2 separate regions of the Homo sapiens genome follow, and region 2 is linked to region 1. Evidence: fine-mapped expression QTL. A gene starts in region 1. The other region holds a variant in brackets. All regions are shown on one strand. Distances are between the middles of the regions.

The links. PIP is the estimated chance that this variant, and not a neighbour inherited with it, causes the effect.
Region 2: its variant is the best candidate, but not a certain one, in a credible set for the expression of KIF27 in monocytes after Pam3CSK4 (Quach 2016, PIP 0.74).

What each region holds. Positions count from the first base shown.
Region 1 is chr9:83,919,544-83,923,936 of GRCh38, reverse strand. KIF27 (kinesin family member 27) reads left to right here and starts at 2,505. Exons shown (of 18, transcript NM_017576.4): 1 at 2,505-2,566. It overlaps LOC105376335 (serine/arginine repetitive matrix protein 1-like), which reads right to left and starts at 3,036. Exons shown (of 3, transcript XM_011519284.2): 1 at 2,676-3,036; 2 at 2,239-2,583. The coding sequence starts at 3,036. RefSeq lists enhancers at 1,105-1,609, 2,224-2,973 and silencers at 2,343-2,492, 2,523-2,902.
Region 2 is chr9:83,327,113-83,331,505 of GRCh38, reverse strand. The region is part of intron 6 of FRMD3 (FERM domain containing 3); the gene reads left to right. Among named protein-coding and RNA genes, the nearest start is that of FRMD3-AS1, 110 kb to the right of the region's middle. The variant A/G (reference allele first, on the strand shown) is at 1,618.

The sequences.
Region 1 (4,393 bases):
TGGGTATTCCTAGACTTAAATTGTTACGTACTATTAATTATTGAAGTTTTGTCAGCAGACCAGTCTGACTTACCAATTCACAGTCATGATGTGAGTTTTTGTTTGTTTTCAAAGAGTTCTAAAAATGCAACTTGGCCCTATAGTCAAATTGGGCAACCACAATCTCCACCAATCATGAGGGGAACCTTGGAAGACTAGGAAATAATCCATCACCCCAATCTGAAAAGCAAGCCCAGGACACTGGCTTTCGCATTTGATTGATACTGAGCCACTATCAGACATTCCCTTGACATCATGACTCAATACACAGGTATGTGTATAAATGAAATCTTAGAATTTTAAAAATTATGTATTATTTATTATTTTTTTGAGGTAGAGTCTCATTCTGTCACCCAGGCTGCAATGCCATGGTGCAACAACAGCTCACTGCAGCCTTGACCTCCCAGGCTCAAACCATTCTCTCACCTCCACCTCCAGAGTAACTGGAACTGCAGGCATACTCAGCCACACCTGGCTAAGTTTTGATTTTTTGTAGGGATGGGGGGTCTCATTATGTTGCCCAGGCTGGTCTCAAACTCCTGGGCTCAAGTGACCCTCCCAGTTCAGCCTCCCAAAGTGCTGAGATTACAGGTGTGAGCCACTGTGCCCAGACTGAATTTTTAAAATTTTAAATAATTCAGTTAAAAGAAAAAAAAATAAAAACTATAAATAAAATAGTCAGCTTTTTTCCCCCACCTTCATTCCTATATTTCATGAGAGAAGGAAGGGTTTTTGAAGATGCTTAGATTGTGCTACTAAAAACAGGAGGCATTAAAGCATTTAAAACTAAATTGGTAAAGTTAAATATTACCATACGACCCAGCAATTCCACTCTTACGTCCATACCTAAAAGACCTGAAAACAGGCTCGGCGCGGTGGCTCACGCCTATAATCCCAGCACTTTGGGAGGCCAAGGTGGGCGGATCACCTGAGGTCGGGAGTTCGAGCCCAGCCTGACCAACATGGTGAAACCCCGTCTCTACTAAAAATACAGAAAACTTAGCCAGGCGTGGTGGTGGCACATGCCTGTAATCCCAGCTACTCCAGAGGCTGAGGCAGGAGAATTGCTTGAACCCATGAGGCGGAGCTTGCAGTGAGTTGAGATAGCGCCACTGCACTCCAGCCTGGGCAACAGAGCGAGACTCCATCTCAAAAAAAAAAAAGGAACTGAAAACAGACATCCAAATATTGTATGTGAATGTCCATAGCAGCATGGAAACAGCCCAAATGTCCACCACCAGCTGAAGAATGGATAAACAAAATGTGGTATGTCTATATCCATACAATGGAATTTTTTCAGCCCTAAAAAGTCCTGATAGGGCCGGGCAGGGTGGCTCATGCCTGTAATCCCAGCTACTCCGGAGGCTGAGGCAGGAGAATCGCTTGAACCCATGAGGTGGAGGTTGCGTTGAGCCTAGATGGCGCCATTGCATTCCAGCCTGGGCAATAAGAGCGAAACTCCATCTAAAGGGCCGGGCGTGGTGGCTCACGCCTGTAATCCCAGCACTTTGGAAGGCCGAGGCGGGCAGATCACGAGGTCAGGAGATCAAGACCATCCTGGCTAACACAGTGAAACAAACCCCGTCTCTACTAAAAATACAAAAAATTAGCCGGGCGTGGTGGCACGCGCCTGTAATCCCAGCTACTCGGGAGGCTAAGGCAGGAGAATCGCTTGAACCCGGGAGGTGGAGGTTGCAGAGAGCCGAGATCACGCCACTGCACTCCAGCTTGGGCGACAGAGCGCGACTCGGTCTCAAAAAAAAGAAAAGAAAAAAAAGAAAAGAAGTCCTGATAGATGTTACAACATGACTGCATCTTGAAAACATTAAGCAAAAGAAGCTAGACACAAAAGGTCATATACTGAATGATTCCATCAATAAAGAAATGCCCAGAATAGGTAAAGCTATCACAGAGTCAGAAAGTAGATTAGTGGCTGGCTGGGGTTGTGGGGAGAGGGGAACCAGAAGGAATGACTGCTAACTGGTTTGGGGATTTTCTTTTGGGGTTATGAAAATGTTTCTGAACTATATACAGAGGTGATGGTTGCACAACACTGTGAATGCATTAAACGCCACTGAATTGTGAGTTTTAAGATGGTTTATGTTAGGCAAGTTTTACTCAATAAAAATAAAAATAAACTGAATTGGTAGCTAAGATATTGAAACACGGTGTGGAATCGTTCTCACTCATTTCACGAACCCGTAGAAAGATGCTTGCGCTCAGGCCTCACAGACCGGTCCCAGCGCGTTGGTGGGACACAACTCGGATTTGCAGGCAAGCCCAGGGGCCGGCCCTTTGCGGACTTCCTGGGGACGCAGGACTCCTGCGCGGCGGGCTTGGAGGCGTGGCCAGGATGGGGGCGGGGCCAGGACGCGGCATCCAGGAGAGGACGCGGCGGGAGGCGGGCTTCGCCGGTTGCCAGGAGAACTCGCGACAACAAAAGACGCGGACGGCGGCTGCGCGGTGTGGCAGAGCGAAGCTGAGGAGTCCAGCGCTCGCCGACAGGGGCCTGGGCTGTCCCGAGCCGGTCAGTGCTCGGCGGGCCTGGCGGGCGGTGCGGGGAAGTGGGGCGCCCTCCCTTCGCGGTGCCCGCCCTCCAGCCCGCCGCGCCCGCCGCTCCCGCGCCCCCAGCCGGCCGTTGGGACTAGTAGGCTCCGGCTTGGGGTCGGGGCCGCCGCGGGTGGGTAGCGGAGGGTGGGCGGTTGGGGCGCCAGCTAGGCCTATGGGGGCGTCCGAGGGGTCTGGGGTCGGGGCTGGGAGCCGGCGAGCGACTAGAGGCAGAGCGCCCCTTCCGGAGGAAGTTGGGTCAGCCCTGAGGAGCGGGTCCCGGGGAACACCGATCGACCGGAACGCGGGACCCGGCCTTTCAGAGCGCACCCTGTGTTCGTCTCGTGTCGCTGCACGGCGTGAGGTGCGACGCGAGGGCCACCACCACCGAGCGCTTTGTTTTATCGCAGGCGTCTTTTTCCCACCGTAGAGGTTGAAACTTGGGCGCATTTCCCACCGTAGAGGTTGAAACTTGGGCGCATTTCCCACCGTAGAGGTTGAAACTTGGGCGCATTTCCTACCGTAGAGGTTGAACCTTGGGCACATTCAAGCCCGAGAGCTCCCTCCCTCGGAGGCAGGTGACTATAAAGAGCAAAGCGCCCAGATTCTTTCTTTGAAACACCTTTTAAGTAACACCTTTTAAGTCTCCAGTGTTGAAAATCCTTGTTGTTTGCCCTTCTTTACTCTTTTGTCGTCTTTACGCATTTGGGGCCTTTTCTGAGCTCCGTATGCGATTTACTGTCCATCTACTGGCAAGTTTTTTATGAAAATAATTAACAAACCACACATTTAAGACAACCACTGCTTTCTGGGAAATCAAGGGTACGGGATGGCAACGGTTTTTGGAGACACTCATTCCTGACCAGTGACATGACATGAGGGATTCAATATTTCTCTTGCCTTTGCTCAGATTTCAAAAACCCGTTGAGTATACTTAAATACGACCAATCAGATTTTGCTTTTTTTTAAATCATTTATTGGCAACATAATACGTATGTTTCTGATGACTATAATTGATCAGAATCTGAAGTATAAGTGCTATGGATTGTGTAAAAACTTTATTTCTTGTATATTGATGTTTTACAAGCCCTATGTTTGTGGACCATTACTATTGTTTGTTTGTTTTGTTTTGAGACAGGGTCTCGCTCTGTTACTCAGGCTGGAGTGCAGTGGCACACTGCAGCCTCAACCTCCCGGGCTCAAGCGATCCTCCAATCTCAGCCTCCCAAGTAGCTGGGACTACAGGTGCGTCACCACAGCCTGGCACATTCTTGTATTTTTAGTAGAGACAGGGTTTCACCATGTTGCCCAGGCTGGTCTGGAACTCGTGGGCTGAAGCGATCCACCTGCCTTGGCCTCCCAAAGTGCTGGGATTACAGGTGTGAACCACTGTGCCCGGCCCCATTATTATTTTTTTTAATGCTTAGAATAAGTTTCAGTTGCCTTTATAACCAAATTCTTTATAGATATTACCATTAAAAACCCCAAGAAATGAGGCTGGGCATCGTGGCTCACATTTGTTTTGTTTTGTTTTCAGGAGGGATCCTCTCGCTTCAGCCTTCTGAGTAGCTGGGATTACAGGCGCACGCCACCATGCCTGCCTAATTTTTGTATTTTTAGTAGAGACAGGGTTTCTCCATGTTGCCCAGGCTGGTCTCGAACTCCTGGGCTCAAGTGATCCACCCGCCCTGGCCTCCCAAAGTGCTGGGATTACAGATGTGAACCACCGTGCTGGGCCATGGTTTTTTTTTTTTCAAGGGTAGTGAATATTATCAATTCATTGTTGTTAGTGTTATTAATAAAATAT
Region 2 (4,393 bases), 590 kb after region 1:
CAATACCATTATAGTATCATACAGAGTAGTTTCCCTGTCCTAAAAATCATCCCTCCTTCTCCCCTAACCCCTGGCAACCGCTGATCTTTTTACTGTCTCTATAGCTTTTGCCTTACCCAGAATGTCATAGTTGGAATCATACAATGTGTAGTCTTTTCAGATTGGCTTCTTTCACTCAGTAATATGCATTTAAGTTTCCTCCATGTCTTTTCTTGGTTTAAGAGCTCATTTCCTTTTGGCATAAAATAATATTCCATTGTCTGTATGTATCATAATTTATCCATTTACCTGCTGAAAGACATCTTGGTTGCTTCCAAGTTTGAGCAATTATGAATAAGGCTGCTATAAATAACTGTGTGTAGGTTTTTGTGTAGACATAAGTTTTCAACTCATTTGGGTAAATACCAAACACCATGATTGCTCTATCATATGGTAAGAGTATGTTTAGTTTTATAAGAAACCACCACACTATTTTCCAAAGTGGCTGTAGCATTTCGCATTCCCACCAGCAGGGAATGAGAGTTCCTGTTGCTCCACATCCTTGCCAACATTTGGTGTTGTTAGTGTTCTGGATTTTGGTCATTCTAGCTAATAGAGTTGCATTTAGAAAGATTTTTATACAGGCATCTTTGGGCCTTTTAATATCATGTGAACTAGATGATATGGAGATGTGTCACTTACATAACCCACTGAGCCGAATGATTCTTCTAGGTAAGGGCTAGTTAAATATTTTTGGCTTTCTGGGTCATACGGTCTCTAGTGCAGTGACTCAGCTCTGTTTTGGTAAAGCAAAAGCAGATATAGACAATTCTTAAATGAGTGGGCCATGATTCAATAAAACTTTATTGACAACACAGGTGGCAGGCCACATTTGGCCTATGGGTCCTAGCTTGCTGACTCCTGTTCTAAACACATGGCAGACCAGGTATGGAATCAATTTCTACTTCACTCTCCTGCCTCTGTAGATAATTTTAAGTTATCAGGAGCCATATTTGTTTGTAAAACTATGTGTGAAAAATAATCTCTTGTAATTTTCAGACTTTAAGCTTGGTGTGCAGAGATGAGGACTGATTTAGAAATAGGTTATTCCTCCCTCTAGAGCCCTCTGGTGACTGGAGGAAGCCATTGCTGCAACCCCTGAGGACTTGATGGTCCTCTGTTTTTTTTGTTTTTTTTTTTTTGAGATGGAGTTTTGCGCACCGCAACCTCCACCTCCTGGGTTCAAGCAATTCTCCTGCCTCAGCCTCCGGAGTAGCTGGGACTACAGGCATGCGCCACCCTGCCGGGCTAATTTTGTATTTTTGGTAAAGACGGGGTTTCTCCATGTTGGTCAGGCTGGTCTCAAACTCCCAACCTCAGGTGATCCACCCGCCTCTGCCTCCCAAAGTGCTGGGATTATAGGTGTGAGCCACCATGCCTCGCCAGTCCTCTGTTCTTTTTGTCCCTCTTGGTTTCTGTTTTCCACAGCTTTAATCAAAGCCACCTGGGGTAAGAGGAAATACCCATTCCGTTAGTCCTGAGGGTGCTCGGAAGGGGTTTAAGATCAAGAATAAGATTGCTTTTACCATAAAGAACCCTGATAGACTTTGCTGGAGGTATTTCCTAGAGTTTCTACTC[A/G]GCTAGTCTTTTCTTCCTCTCATCACCAGTTCATCAGGTTTGTCATTAGAGACAGAGACATTTGCATTAACTTCAGTCATAGGTCATCAGCTTTTAAATATTCAAAAGGCTCAATTGGCAGTAAAGCAGTTTTGATGAAGTATATTCCTTGCCCTTGAAGAGCAGGAAAATCATCCAACTAGCCACACTATAATGATCCGGGGCAGTGAGGTTTGTGCTAGAAGCAAGAATGACACAGTGTGTTTTTTAAACAGAGTAATTATCTCTATTTCTTAAAGGTTATATTCTCTGTAAATCATGCGCCATGGCTATAGTTTAAAAAAATGGAGTTATCATTTTAAAAACGTCTAGGTTTCTAGAAACAAATACCCTGACATGAAAAATATCCTCTACCTTTGCTTCTGATGAATAGATCACAAGGGCCCTCTTAAGAAATGTTTTTGTCAGTTTTGAGAAGTGTGTTTATTGTGTAAAAAGAAGACAAGAAATAAATGTCTGGTTATTTTACAACCCCAATCTTTCTTAAGATGAGTTTTCTCTTTGTCATCGATCTCTCTCCCTGTATCATTTCCCTTCCCAAGTCCCTTCCAAACTCATAGAATCTCTCTCCCTGGTAGATTATCAAATCAATTTGCATTTTTTGTTGCTATTTGGTATAGCACCTTTCTTAGGAAGGGGGAAGATGGGATGATTTGGGATCAAATGCGTTCACTGTAAAAATGAAGTCCTGGCATTTTGTGGCCTAGGGTAAAGGACATTTCTAGGGAGGGATGGGCTGGGGCAAGTGGTGTGCATGTCCAAGCCATTCATGTTTTTTATACAGGTGAAATCTAGCTACGATGACCTTAAGGGGGAAAAAGCAATGTTACCAAAGTGCAATGTGGCCATGAAGAAGGAGAGAGGGTTATATTATTGAAAGTAGGAGTCAGCCATTACTTAATACATTGTCTGATTATATCTCACATGTGATTCTAACTTATGCATAGAGCTAAAGATTCTTTGAACTTTCAATGAGACTATAACAGTGAATTTATCCAGAGGATATTTATCCATCCTTCTATCCATTTATATTTCATCCATCCATCCATGCATCTTTCCATCCATCCATTCATACCACTAATATTTATCGAAGAGCAGCCTTTTGTGGGGCACTGTAGTAGTGTGGGATGGCCTAGCCCAGATTTTCGGCCATTTCATCCCCAAGCTGGGGTCTCCTTCATCATCCACACTCCCCTATGACCTCATGGTTTGAAAGATTTTATCTACAAAATAATTCATGAAGCAACAATTAATTTGCCTCCTAATTTTTATTAGTCAAAGACAGTTTTGACTATCATTTAGCGCCTTCGACTATCAAGAGGTCACTAGCCAACAGCAAAGAAATTTGACAGCCAATTTCTATGCTTAAGGGATCCTTGGAGTCCAAAGCAGTAGTTATAAAATGACAGTCCTTGGACTACACTGTGACCCAGATGTATGTAGTTTGAGCCAAATAATAGCTGTAAAAAATGGAACCAGTTGCCATAAAGTTCTGGCTTCAGTTGCGACTGGGGTTTTGGTCACATGGCTCCCTGACTTCTGTGTGGCAACACTCAGCAGCAGTGCCTCTTTAAAAGAATCCTTTGTCTCTGAATTGCCACCATCCCTGCTCTGCCAACTTACCTTCTCCTTCCATTGAGTTTGCAGCCACCATTTTTTTTTTTTTTTACAGATAAGGAAACAGAGTTCTGAGAAATTAACTTATCCAAGGCTACACAATTATGAAGCAATAGAACTTGACCTGAAATTTGAGTTTCCGTGCATTGTGCACTAATATCTTTCTAAGTTGCTGCTCTCCTATAAGCCTTGTCCCTGCATGGCCCCAGGGTGTTACCACTGTCTCTTTCATAGCGTGGCAGCTGTCCAAATTTGCAGCATTTTATCTAATGCTCTGCATAAAGATGGCTCCTAAAAGGATTTGCGAGAGATAATGTCCCTCTCTAAGTGAAAGATTGGAAATGACAGACTGGGAACTCTCATTTCCTTTCCATTTAGGATGTAGAAAGGCATGAGATATTGATCTCTCCTAACACCAAAATAACACCAACAAGCTGGCTAAATTACAAAATCATATTTTTTGAACCCATCTGAGAGCTGAAGATGCAAATCGATCTGAATGTATTAAAATCCAGAATGTCTTTCTTAGGAGAGTGGAAACGCATAGCTGCTTTCACTTCTGGTGGAGTGACAGGAAGAGAAGGATTACACCCTAGGTCAGGGCTAAGGGCAACTAGGCAAACTTTTAACCAGCATGAGAGCTGAGTGAAATCCCCTAGAGGCACTCCAGACCTTCAGCCTGGGTGGGGAAGCCCTTGCTGACGGCAGGAGGCAGGATGACAGGGAGGAGAAAAGTCTTCTAAAGTCCAGAGAGCCAGGGATGACACTGAAGAGCAAAGGAATCTCTCTCCAGCCCACATTCCACATGAATGCTATAAAGCATAGACAGCTCCCTGCAGTCGCTGAGTGCTAAAGTCCCAAGCCCTGCTGAAGGGCAAGTCTTGAGAGCACTCCCAAACATTTGAAGCCAGTGGTGTGGAAAATCTTTTATTCCAACAAAGCTAAATCTAAGTAAAGTTGCAACCAAGTTGCAGCAAAATGTAATCTAAGCCAAATTGAGAATTCTGTTTTTCAGAAGTAGAAGACCATTATGTTGGTCTTCTACACCATTACATTGCTCTTCTGCCCATAGGTTTCATTCTAGAGCTCCTAGGCTCAGATGGGTCAGAGGGAACCAGAA